3 separate regions of the Homo sapiens genome follow, and regions 2 and 3 are each linked to region 1. The links come from fine-mapping of genetic effects on gene expression. A gene starts in region 1. Each other region holds a variant in brackets. All regions are shown on one strand. Distances are from middle to middle.

Region 1 (4,217 bases):
TGTACAGGTGATGTGTCCTCAGGGTGTCACACCTGAGGCACCTGGTGTTTTGTCTTCATGCATGTTCTTTAGAAAGTCACGTGGAGGGGGTTTTCCATCTGGGCTGGGCCAGGCCACTTAATGGGCCTGTCGCTGGTGGGCTGGCCGGTTCTGAGAAGATCTGGCAGGTGACTGCGGTTGGTCAGCCATTCAAGGCTACTACTGGAGAGTCCGGGAAATACCTCAGGTGCTCTCTGCATTTCCACAGGCAAGTCTGTAACTTCTGAGGTGTCCTGCAAAGGCAGGTAGCTGGCAAATCTGTGAATGGATGAGTGCACAGAGGAGGTCCCAGGTGAGGGTGACAGCCCAGCAACACACTTCCCCAGTCACACCTGCTCTTTGGAAGGTTCCAGCAAGGCTGTGGAGAGGACCCAAGGGCCTGTGACTGCCACCTCCCAGTAGACCCCAAGGACCTCCAGCCTCTGCTCTCCCCTCAAGGGTCCTGTCGCTCCCTTGGTGGCCATTAGCTGTGGTGGCCAGAGCTGTTCTCCACTCTACCTCCCAGGGCCTCTATCAGCAGCTGACGGTTCCTGCGGCTTGTAATGTTCCTGCTGATCTGCCTCACTCACTACCCGTCACCGCTGATGAACTTTCCCAAAAGTCAGCCCAGAACTCCTTAAGGGAAGGGGCAGCCTCGTTGTGGTAGTTCCAGCACCCTGTACCAAGCAGGTTCTTAGTAAATGCTGACTGTTGAGTGGCCCCTTTCTGAAATAAATTCCTTGTTCTCAAATATATCCTGGATCTGGTCCCCTTGGGTCCAATCAGCGCTTGAACCAGACAGCAATGACTGACCACCTCTACTCAAGAGTTTCTGGTTTATTTGGAGCCTCTACCCCACCCAACCCTAAGGCTGGGAACCCTTTTGCCTTCCTTTTTTCTTAAAGGAAGTTAATCCCAGCACATGTGAAAGATGGACCATCCATCCCAATGCCTCATGTCCTGGGCTTCATTTCTCCATTTCTCCCAGGGCACCCTGGGAGTCTACATGCAAACAGAGATACTAGAAAGTTAACTTCCGGAAACCCCCTTGATAGGCCAATTCGTCCCCTTTTCTCTCTCTCCATGTGATTTTTTTTTTTCAAAAAATATCTTTTGTAGTTTTTTTTTCCTTATCACCAATACATACCCAATGTGGAAAACTGAGAAAAAGCAGGTTTGTAAAAAGAATAAAATGCTTCGCCATAATCTCACTCTGCAGACAACCTACAATGGCAAAAATCGCAATTAATTTTGCACCAACCTAATACTAGGATTTCAGTGCACAGCCTTCCAGGCCTACATTTAGGTTTGTTTGAAACAGGAACATGCGGTTCAACCGCCAACCTGAGCCCGCGTCCCCTAAGGCCAATACCACCATCCTGACCCTCCTTGGGAGGTCCTGAAATGACCCCAGTTCCAGGGGCAACGAAATGCATACGCTTTCGAGGGAAGGAGGGGAGGAAACGACCCTGTGGCGCAGGTCTGCACGGCCAAGGGGGTTCCCTGAGCTGGTGGAGCGGCGTGGCGTGGCCTAGGAAGTCCCTGGGCGAGGGAGGCGGGGCGCGGCGTGGTGGGGGCGACTGGGTGGTGCAGGCCTGCGCACGCGCGCAGCCGTGGGCGGGACGGGCGGCCTGGGGGCTTCGCCGCCAGGTGGCAGGCGTGCGCCACGCCCGCAGGTTCCAGCCCCGACCCGGGCGCGCGGGGCCGACTAGGGTCGGGTCCAGTGTGCGGTGGTCGCTCCGCTCCGGGCCGCTCCGCTCTGGGCGTCAGGGCGCGGGGAGCTGCCCCGGGGTTCTGTCCACCGGGGAGGAAAGCCACGAGCACTGAGCGCCTCCTGAGAGCCAGCCCTGACGTGAACTCATTTTATCTGCCACGACCCAGAAGGTGGGCGCAATTTTCCTATGTTCCAGGTGTGAAAAGTGAGGCTCAGGGAGCTAGGCAGTTGCCCAAGGGGACACAGCAGTGACGGCTCTGGGACGAAGCCCAGGTGTCCAGACGCGATGGCCTCTTCCCGCGTTCTCGGCGGGTACGGCGCGCCGCCTGCCTGCGGCCCGCGGGGAGGTGGTCGGGTGGCCGCCCCGGCTCCTCCTCGGGCCCCTGAGGATTTCCGGCCGGGACCCCGAGGAGGGCCCTGTGGCCTTGCGGCATCCGTGGTCACGATTCCAGCCCCACACGGCCTCCCGCCAGTCCCTGCGAGTGCCCAAGACGGGGCCGCCCCTCCCGTCTCCTCCCTTCTCTCCCCTCCCCGGCGTCTCCCGCCGAGGGCGCTGCAGGCGGCCTGGTTGGGATGAGGGCGGGCAGGCGGCCCACAAGCAGGGGCCTGTTTCCTGACTCGTTTGACCCTGGCTGTCCCTGCGGAGGCCCCAGCAGACCCAGCAAGGTCATCTAGGGCGAAATTCCAGTCTGAGCCCTGAGCAGTGACTTAAGTTTTCCCGATAAGGCTCAAGAAGGGACACAGATTGTCCTCCCCACACCCCGCACTCTGTCAGCACCTCCACTCTGGTGAAGCCTCTGCTGCAGACAGCCCGGCTCGAGAAGAGACAAAGATAGACTTGGGACAGATAAGGACAGAGACAGCCAGGGAGAGAGGGGCAAGGAGCTCAGAGGTGAAGATGGGGCCGCGCCGATGGGGAGGCAGCGGGTCTGCGGCCGCCGAGATGGGAAGTGGGCCCTGGAGCGGGCTTGCCGAGCCTACGACCGGGGCTGGGATGTTGGAGGAAGACGCGGTCATGAGGGCTGAAAAAGAAGGGGTTTTTGGTATGGTAGAAAAATGGATTGGGCTGGCAGCTCGAAGGCCACAGCCCTGTACCTCTGGGCCTGGTCTCGTGTGTGCACCTGGGACCGGTGGGTGAGGGGTGATGTAGAGTCAATGAGGGACGAGCTCGCTGAGTCTCCAGGAGGCAGGAGTGGAGAGGGCGAGGGAGGGAGGGTAGGACCTGTATACCTACGGTGGAGGGGGCAGGCGGGGGACAGATGCTGCTGGGCCAAGACTACTGAGTCTCTCCTGCCTGCTGGAGGTCCCTAGCTCAGGACTTATTCCATGCACACTCTGATAGAATATTTACGCCCAACACTAACTGTTTGGCTTGGCAAATAAGCAAAGCCATAAAGTCACAGCTGGCCTGTAGGCTCCCAGTCACCATGTGCAGCTGAGTCACAACCACTTCCCCCACCCCCTGGGGAGCAAGCGCCTATGCTCATGCCTGCACTCAGACACATATCCACACAGATACCCACAGATGCCGCGTGCCACTGAGTCATAGCTACCTCCTCAGAGAGCACGTGCCTGCATGTACTTGCACACAGGTCCCCACAGATGCCATATACACCTGAGTGTGAGTCATCATCACCACTGAACCCTGAGGGAGGGCACCCAGAGTGTGTTCTGCCATCCTTGCTTAGAGATACCCATATACACACATATACAGATATGTGCCCACCACACATCCTGTTGTACCTGCTGCATCATACCAGCAGATCAATAAATGTTTGTGGAATGAATGAATGAGTAAACAAATGAATGAACTAACAAGTGAAAACGTGAGTGACAACCACACTGCGTGGATACTCAGTAAAATTGGTTGGGGCAGCCCTGCGGGGTGGGTCCCAAGCTCTGTGTCCAGAAGGAGTTGTCTTGCTCCAAATATATCCTCTGTGGGCGGGCAGGGAGCCAGGGCTGCCTCCCAGACCCTGACTTCACTGGGCCGGAGGCCCAACCTCTGAGGAGTTGAAGAAAATTAACAAAGAAGAGGCCCTGGCTTTCTGTAGCCAAGGCTGAGCTGTGAGATGAGTTGGTGGGGGCATGTGTACTCTGGAAATACCACTTACTCAGAGACCTGAGATGCAGGACAGAGTGCTCTGCTGAAGGGCCCAGAGAGGACTGGTTCTGGATTGGGCTTCTTGGGAACTCTGCCCCAAATGTGCAGAATGTGCAGGAGGCCTGGTTCCACTTGAGATCTGGGGCAAATACAGTGCTTGGGCTGAGCTGGTGATTGCAAAACTGAGGCCCCCTATTAGACAGTTTTCCATCTAGGCCTGCCCTTCTGGCTTGGGCTTGTTCCCAGAGCTGCTTTCCTGTCTCTCCCTTGAATCTTCTTTTCTGAAGCCCCTGTGTCTCTGCCCTAATTCATCATCTGGAATATTTTAATATTACCCCAACTGGTCTTCCCGCCTTTAGACAGTAAGACCTATCTATCTTG
Region 2 (4,217 bases), 140 kb after region 1:
ATGTACCACTAAGTGAAAGAATCAAGGTGTGAAAATAGAGTAAATGGTTTGTTTTTGTTAAAAACGATACTTTTAAAAAAAATTATTTTTATTTTTATTTTGAGACATAGTCTTGCTCTGTCACCCAGGCTGGAGTGCAGTGGCGTGATCTCGGCTCACTGCAGCCTCTGCCTCCTGAGTTCAAGTGATTCTCCTTCCCCAGCCTCCTGAGTAGCTGGGACTATAGGCACACTCCACCATGGCTGGCTGATTTTTGTATTTTTAGTAGAGATGGGGTTTCACCATGTTGGCCAGGCTGGTCTCGAACTCCTGGCCTCAAGTGATCCACCACCAAAAAAAAGAAAATTTTTATCTGCATGTGCTGGCAGTAATGCGTGACTCTTCCCTGGCCCCTGACCCTCATTCCCACTCCTTTTCCCCAGGAAGGAAACCAATGGTTCAGAGGAAATGGGGTGAAGGTGGAAAAGGGAACTTTTACTTTGCATTTTGTTCCTTTCTGTACTATCTGGAAAATATATATATATATATAATTTTTTTTTTTTAGACGGAGTTTTGCTCTTGTTGCCCAGGCTGGAGTACAATGGTGCGCTCTCGGTTCATGGCAACCTCCGCCTCCAAGGTTCAAGCAATTCTCCTGCCACAGCCTCTCAAGTAGCTGGGATTACAGGCATACGCCACCACGCCCGGCTAATTTCGTATTTTTAGTAGAGATGGGGATTCTCCATGTTGGTCAGGCTGGTCTTCAACTCCCAACCTCAGGTGATCCGCCCGCCTCGGCCTCCCAAAGTTTTGGGATTACAGGCATGAGCCACCGTACCCGGTATATACATAACTTTTACTTAAGATAATGTCCATCTGGTTGGTGGCATTGTGGACCAGTTTGATTTTTAAAAATTATCTGCAGTATTAGACTATTAATATAAGTTCCTAGGGACCATGTCAATGTTTTATTAATGTTGCTGCCCAGATGTTGCCTGTTATAGTAGCTTTTTATATTGAGATACTCAATAAACTTTTGTTCCACTGAAAAAAATTAATAATGTTATTTAAAGTATTTTAAAAGTAAGTTTAAACAAGACAAGCAGCTGAGTCCATTCTCTGAAGCAATGCTGGCAAGACCCAGGAATTTATACTGGCTGGACAGTATGAGGATGGCTAATTTGCAATTTGTGCCCAGGAATATGTAATTTACATCTACTTCCTGAATTAACAAATCTAATATGCACTAGAAATAATTTTCCAAAGGGTAAAGATTTAGAAAATATCCGAGAATCCGTGTGATCTACCTTACCTAACCCCTCTGTTATCAATGCAGTACTTCTTTCTTCCAAATCTATCCTTCTCTGTCTTGCTTTGTGATACTGGAACTGGCCCTTATAAACATTTCTCCTTTGCCAAAATGCAGAATATTAAGCTTTGCCAGTAAAGGTGCTGAAGGAACACTGCAGTAGAAAGTGTATTCTCTTCCTAGTTCTGGTGTACTTTCTCCTTCTTGCTCCTGTGGTAAGCACCTAATGGTGGTGTGTGGGACCACAGTGGCAGTGCTATCTATAAAGTTTCAGTGGTACCCCAGGTGGTAGCTTCCTATCAAGTTTCACTAGCACCCTAGAAGTTTCACGGCCATCCTAGTGGGGGGCTTCCTAGCAAGTCTTGCCAGCACTCCAGCAGGCAGTTTACTGCTTGCCAGTTCTGGTCTCTTGAAATTCGATGCCATCCAG[T/C]GGCCACAACACCTCTCCAACATGATCTGAATCAGCCTAGATCTGGGAAGGGGCTCTCTTCCAAGTTTGCTTCTTTGTTAGGTAGTATGCCTGAGCCCTAGAGGTAGTAGTTGCTCCCTATATTTTATTCCTGCATTCTTACGAATTCTCTTTACCTCTTAGTAGTTAATCCCCTATTACTACTTAATAACTCCTTATATTAAAATTTCTGGTCAGGCGTGGTGGCTCACCACTGTAATCGCAGCACTTTGTGAGGCCAAAGTGGGCAGACAGCTTGAGTCTAGGAATTTGAGACCAGCCTGGGCAACATGATGAAACTCTGTCTCTACAAAAAAATACAAAAATCAGCCAGGCGTGGTGGCTCACCCCTGTAATTGCAGCACTTTGGGAGGCCAAGGTGGGCAGACAGCTTGAGTCTAGGAATTTTAGACCAGCCTGGGCAACATGGTGAAACTCTGTCTCTACAAAAAAATACAAAAAATCTGCTGGACATGGTGGTTCACACCTGTAATCCCAGCACTTTGGGAGGCCAAGGCAGGCGGATCACAAGGTCAGGAGATCAAGACCATTCTGGCCAACACGGTGAAACCCTGTCTCTACTAAAAACACAAAAATTAGCTGGGTGTGGTGGCACGTGCCTGTAGTCCCACCTACTCGGGAGGCTGAGGCAGGAGAATCACTTGAACCTGGGAGGTGGAGGTTGCAGCGAGCTGAAATCGCGCCACTACACTCTAGCCTGGGCGACAGAGCGAGACCCTGTCACAAAAAAAGAAAAAAAAAATTAGCTGGGTGTGGTGGTGTGTGCCTGTAGTTCCAGCTACTTGGGAGGCTGAGATGGGAGGATCACTTGAGCCCAGGAGGCAGAGGCTGTAGGGAGCTAAGATTGTGCCACTGCACTACAGCCTGGGCAACAGAGTGAAACACTGCCTCAAAAAAATAAAAATAGGCCAGGCGCAGTAGCTCATGCCTGTAATCCCAGCACTTTGGGAGGCCGAGGCAGGTGGATCACCTGAGGTCAGGAGTTTGAGACCAGCCTGACCAACATGGTGAAACCCCATTTCTACTAAAAATACAAAAACTCAGCCAAGTGTGGTGGTACATGCCTATAACCCCAGCCACTTGGGCAACTGAGGCAGGAGAATCACTTGAACATGGGAGGAGGAGGTTGCAATGAGCCGAGATTGAGCCATTGCACTCTAGCCTGGGCAACAAGAGCTAAAACTCTGTCTCAATAAATAAATAAATAAAAATAAAACAAAATTTCTCTGTTCAAATTACTGGTGTGGTTTCTGGCTCCTGACTAGACCTTGACTGATTCATCCCTAAACCAAAATAACCCAAAACAAACTCATCCAACAACAAACCATGCCAACCACAAAAAATCAAATCTAAGCCCACCACTAAAACCTATGTATGATTAATCTGCTAACACAGAGAAACAGTATGGCAGTTACCAAACTTGTTAACTTATTGCTTCCTGAAGCTGACTGTGCATGTAGCTGAATAGTAAGTCAGCTGCTACCACAGATTTACTGTTTATGATTGCATATTTCAGAAGGATGTATTAAATGCATTGTTCTGAGTGTGGGTGGTTATCTAATTCTTTACAAGTCCTTCACGGGAAAAGAAATTTGCTGGTTTTTTCTGCCATAAGAATGAATCTATTTATGAAAAAGCATAGATATAACTGTAGTAAGTGACAGAATTTTAAAAAATCACTGTGAACATTCCAGAAAGTTCTCAGAAGGTTCGCAGAAATTACCAGTAAAGTTAAACTCTAATTTCTGGCTTCAATGTCATTCATTCAATAAATATTTACTGAGTGGCCCTGGGACATAGCAGTAAAGAGGACAGACAATATTCCAGCCTCATGAAATTTACTTTCTGTGATGGGGAAAAAACATGTAAACAAACCAATATGCAACATAAATTCAGGTGTTATGAAGTACTATAAAGAAAATTAAGGAAAAGGATGTAACGGGTGTGGGTGGTATTTTAGGAGATGATTTAGTGTTCTATATTAAATTTCCTACACATAGCATGCAATAAATGTTATAATAAATATAACCGCAGATATATCTTAGGCATGCTACTAAGAGGACAGGATTTTCATGTAGTTCCATAATAAATCAAACTGAATACATTTATGTAAATCATAACAAGCTTATATATGGACCAATGAAACTTACCCTATAGAAAGCACTGGTCAAAGGGAGTAATGCTGCGGCAATGTTGTATTCTTCTAAACTTGAACAATCCTTTAAGCAAAACAAAGACAAAAGAGCATTAGGATATTTACCAGAAATCACAAATACATGCGAACTAACATCTGGGATACACTGTTTACTGTCCTATGGGGTTTTTACCTTTTTATTTTGCAGAGGACCTGACGGAGGGGTTTGTACTCTTATTCCAAATTGCCATTAAGACATAGCTAGGTAAGTTTTGGGGGAAAAAACTGTGTGTGAAGCACATTCTTTTATAAATAAGGTAAAAGTA
Region 3 (4,217 bases), 410 kb before region 1:
CAATAGCAGAATCAGCAGCGCATATCCACATCCCTTTGATATCTATTTTCTCTGTGTGCTGCAATGTCTGCTAAATGGATTACCTGGCATTTCTAAACCAGAAGCCGCCTCAGAGTGAGTGTCATGTAGGTCAGAGGCTGCTGCGGCTTAGATTTACTGGGCCTCTTAAGTTGCTGCTGTTGCTGAAGGGATCAGGAAGTAAGGGTGGGGAGGAGGAAGGGGCTTAAGGAGTAAGAGAGGCCACAGCAGAGTAGTTCTGTGCCCCTAAAGACTGTTTTATTAAAGGCCAAGTTATTCCTTGCCTGCATTTATTGTGCAATGATTGGAAGCACCTTAAACTTCACTCCCATTGGTTATGCACAGTTTACTGAACTAGTGTGCTGTAAGACCACAAAAAGTGTGTGCTACTGATTGCAACTGCAGCAACTACAAGGAGAGATGGTCAAGGTCTAGAAAAGCACCCACTGAAATATAATTAGTAATGTGTCAGGTAGTGGTATTATGGATAACTCTATTTTTGGAAATTTTAAAATTAATTCATCTTTTAAATAATGTTAAGAGAAGAGCGGTTAGGGAGGGGAGAATACTGTCCCCTTGAGACCTGAATTTCTAGGGCCTAATATTATGGAATGTATTTATAGATGCTCCGCAACTTATGATGGGGTTATGTACTGATAAACCCATTGTAAATTGAAAATCTAGTAAGTCAAAAGTGCATTTAGGCCGAGGCAGGTGGATCACCTAAGGTCAGGAGTTCAAGACCAGCCTGGCCAACATGGTGAAACCCTGTCTTTACTAAAAAAAAAAAAAAAAAAAAATAGAAAAATTAGCCAGGCATGGTGGCAGGCACGAGTAATCCCAGCTACTCAGGAGGCTGAGGCAGGAGAATTGCTTGAACCCGGGAGGTAGAGGTTGCAGTGAGCCAAGACTGTGCCACTGCACTCCAGCCTGGGCGACAAAAGCAAAACTCCGTCTCAAAAAAAGAAAAAAAGTGCATTTAGGCTGGGCATGGTGGCTCGCGCCTGTAATCCCAGCACTTTGGGAGGCCAAGGCAGGCGGATCACGAGGTCAGGAGATCGAGACCATCCTGGCTAACACGGTGACACCCCGACTCTACTAAAAATACAAAAAAATAAGCCAGGAGTGGTGGCGGGTGCCTGTACTCCCAGCTACTCAGGAGGCTGAGGCAGGAGAATGGTATGAACCTGAGAGGCGGAGCTTGCAGTGAACCGAGATCGTGCCGCTGCACTCCAGCCTGGGCAACAGAGTGAGACTCCTCTGTCTCAAAAAAAAAAAAAAAAAGTGCATTTAGTACACCTAACCTAAACCAAACTTCGGAGCTTAGCCTAGTCTACCTTAAATGTGCTCAGAACACTTACATTAGCCTATAGTTGGGCAAAGTCATCTAACACAAAGCCTACTTTATAATGAAGTCTTAAGTATCTCATGTACTTGATTGAACACTGTTCTGAAAGTGAAAACAGAATGATTGTATGGGTACCTCCTGAAGTCAAAAATCCTAAGTTGAACCATCATAAGTCAGAGACCATCTGTATACCATAATAATTCATCCCAGTCCATGAGTCACCATGGAGCTCATCAGAATACACCTGTAGAACTAGAGAGTCATAAAAGGTCCCTACCTTAAAGACAGTCTAGTCCAATTTTTCCTTTCTATTTTTTTTAAGAAGGAGTCTTGCTCTGTCACCAGGCTGGAGTGCAGTGGCGTGATCTTGGCTCACTGCAACCTCTGCCTCCGGGTTCAAGCGATTCCCCTGCTTCAGCCTCCCGAGTAGCTGGGACTACAGGCAGGTGCCGCCACACTCAGCTAATTTTTTGTATTTTAGTAGAGATGGGGTTTCACCATGTTGGCCAGGATGGTCTCAATCTCCTGACCTCATGATCTCCCCTCTCGGCCTCCCAAAGTGCTGGGATTACAGGCATGAGCCACTGCACCTGGCCATCTCTTTTTTTTTTTTTTTGAGACAGAGTTTCGCTCTTATTGCCCAGGCTGGAGTGCAATAGCACGATCTCAGCTCACCGCAACCTCCGCCTCCCAGGTTCAAGCAAGTCTCTTGCCTCAGCCTCCCGAGTAGCTGGGATTACAGGCATGTGCCACCACGTCCTGCTAATTTTGTATTTTTAGTAGAGACGATGTTTCTCTATGTTGGTCAGGCTGGTCTCGAACTCCCGACCTCAGGTGATCCGCCCACCTCGGCCTCCCAAATTGCTGGAATTACAAGAGTGAGCCACCGTGCCCGGCCCT[G/GT]TTTTTTTTTTTTTTTTTTTTGAGAGACAGGGTCTTGCTCTGATGTCCAGGCTGGAGTACAGTGGCACACTCAAAGCTCATTGTCACTGGGCATGGTGGCTCATGCTTGTAATCCCAGCACTTTGGGAGGCCCAGTCAGGCGGATCGCCTGAGGTCAGGTGTTCGAGACCAGCCTGGCCAACATGGCAAAACCCAGTCTCTTCTAAAAATATAAAGATTAGCTGGGTGTGGTGGCATGAGCCTGAGGCACGAGAATCGCTTGAACCCGGGAGGCAGAGGTTGCAGTGAGCTGAGATCGTGCCACTACACTCCAGCATGGATGGGAACAACAACAAAAAAAAGCTCACCATAACTTCCAACTCCTGGGCACAAGTGATCCTCCCACTTCAGCCTCCTGAGTAGCTGAGACTACAGGGACATACTACCATATCTGGCTAATTAAAATAATTTTTTTTTTTTTGTAGAGATGGATTCTCACTATGTTGCCCAGGCTGGTCTCTAACTCCTGGCCTCAAGTAATCCTCCCCTGGCCTCCCAAAGTGCTGAAATTACAGGCATGAGCCACTGTGTCCAGCCTCAATTCTTCCTTTTATAGAAGAGAAAACAAACCTAGAGGGTTCTAGTAGTTTTTCCATACTAGCACAACTCATTTGTAATAGAGCTAAAAAAAGAATTCAGGCTTCTTATCTTTTGTCCAAAGGAAGGAATGATTTTAGTCTTTCTTACTACTACCTTTCAAACTCACTGCAACCCCCGCTTCCCTAGCCCTTTACCCTATTGTCTTTTCTGTCTTCCAATAAGCCTCTCACCTAGCTCTCAGGTGAGATAACAGATGAGTCTCTCTACCTCACAACTCAAGGCACTCATGTCACACTGTCCCAAGAAATCTTCTCACCACATTCTGCTCTAGTTGCCAGTAGCCACAGAGCGTTTCTTCCACTCAGCACATGTCACCATGAGATGCTAATCTTTCCCACTCACTCCTTGCTTGCCCTTGACTTGAGAGCAAGAAAACCACAGCACTCTTGACAGTTCTCTTCAAAGAAATCTTCACTTTTCAAACTTCCTCTCCTTGATTTTCTTTTCTCAGGCCAAAAGTGGGTAATGGGCTACAGGTTTCAGAACCAATTTGGAGGCTACCCCTTGAGCAAGTCCTGCATAAATGATCTGACATATCTCTTTATATAGGGGTACTTGCCACCTATTGTTCTAAGCTCCAAAACTAAGAAAATAGGAAAATGTAATTTAACATCCCAACTCAACTGCATTTATTCTTTCCCAGTTCTCTTTGTTTCTTAATGCATTCCAGCTGAGGTTTTTAAATTTAATTTTTATTAGGTTATGCGTTCCAGTGAGAGAACACACACCTCCTTTTTTTTTTTTTTTTTTCAGGTGCAAGATTTAATAGAGTGAAAACAGAGCTCCCATGCAAAGGGAGGGAACCCAAAGAGGTTAGCTGTTGCCAGCTCCAATGCCTGGGTTTATATCCCGATCATTGTCCCTCCCGCTGTGCTCTCAGGCAATAGATGATTGGGTATTTCTTTACCTCCCGTTTTTTGCCTAATTAGCATTTTAGTGAACTCTCTTTACTACCTGATTGGTCGGGTGTGAGCTAAGTTGCAAGCCCTGTGTTTAAAGGTGGATGTGGTCACTTTCCCAGCTAGGCTTAAGTATTCTTAGTCAGCCTAGGTAATCCAGCTAGTCCTGTCTTTTAGATCCCCCTCTCAACAGGAAAACCCAAGTGCTGTTGGGGAGGTTGGCCGACAACCGCTGTAACTGCTTCCTGCTGAACTGGGGCGTAGTAGGGGTTGTGAAGTTGAGATTTCCTTGGGAGGGGTGCCTTCAATGTCATTAACATTGGAGCATGGGCTAGCACGCCGGTCCAGGGGTCCACGGTAGATCTTAGTCATGGACTGCATCTGGGGCTCCATTTGAAGAATCATTGGTAGCT

Direction of the effects. Positions count from the first base shown, and alleles are read on the strand shown. Sizes are in standard deviations (SD) of each study's normalised expression. Not every link is listed here.
With allele G in place of GT in region 3, the expression in subcutaneous fat of the gene that starts at base 1,692 in region 1 is higher (large effect, 2.1 SD a copy in TwinsUK).

What was found. PIP is the estimated chance that this variant, and not a neighbour inherited with it, causes the effect.
Region 2: its variant is the best candidate, but not a certain one, in a credible set for the expression of SBF2-AS1 in whole blood (INTERVAL, PIP 0.58).
Region 3: its variant is the best candidate, but not a certain one, in a credible set for the expression of SBF2-AS1 in subcutaneous fat (TwinsUK, PIP 0.89).

Annotation. Positions count from the first base shown.
Region 1 is chr11:9,756,602-9,760,818 of GRCh38, forward strand. SBF2-AS1 (SBF2 antisense RNA 1) reads left to right here and starts at 1,692. Exons shown (of 3, transcript NR_036485.1): 1 at 1,692-1,902. It overlaps LINC02709 (long intergenic non-protein coding RNA 2709), which reads right to left and starts at 2,932. Exons shown (of 3, transcript NR_033972.1): 1 at 2,828-2,932; 2 at 1,166-1,242; 3 at 1-297. RefSeq lists an enhancer at 1-30 and silencers at 1,502-1,901, 2,022-2,141.
Region 2 is chr11:9,892,036-9,896,252 of GRCh38, forward strand. It overlaps SBF2 (SET binding factor 2), which reads right to left. Exons shown (of 40, transcript NM_030962.4): 17 at 3,908-3,976. All of the region lies in intron 1 of LOC101928008 (a long non-coding RNA gene), which reads left to right. Among named protein-coding and RNA genes, the nearest start is that of LINC02709, 130 kb to the left of the region's middle. RefSeq lists enhancers at 1,608-2,108, 2,109-2,609. The variant T/C (reference allele first, on the strand shown) is at 1,719.
Region 3 is chr11:9,344,151-9,348,367 of GRCh38, forward strand. No RefSeq gene overlaps it. Among named protein-coding and RNA genes, the nearest start is that of TMEM41B, 32 kb to the left of the region's middle. The variant G/GT (reference allele first, on the strand shown) is at 2,267.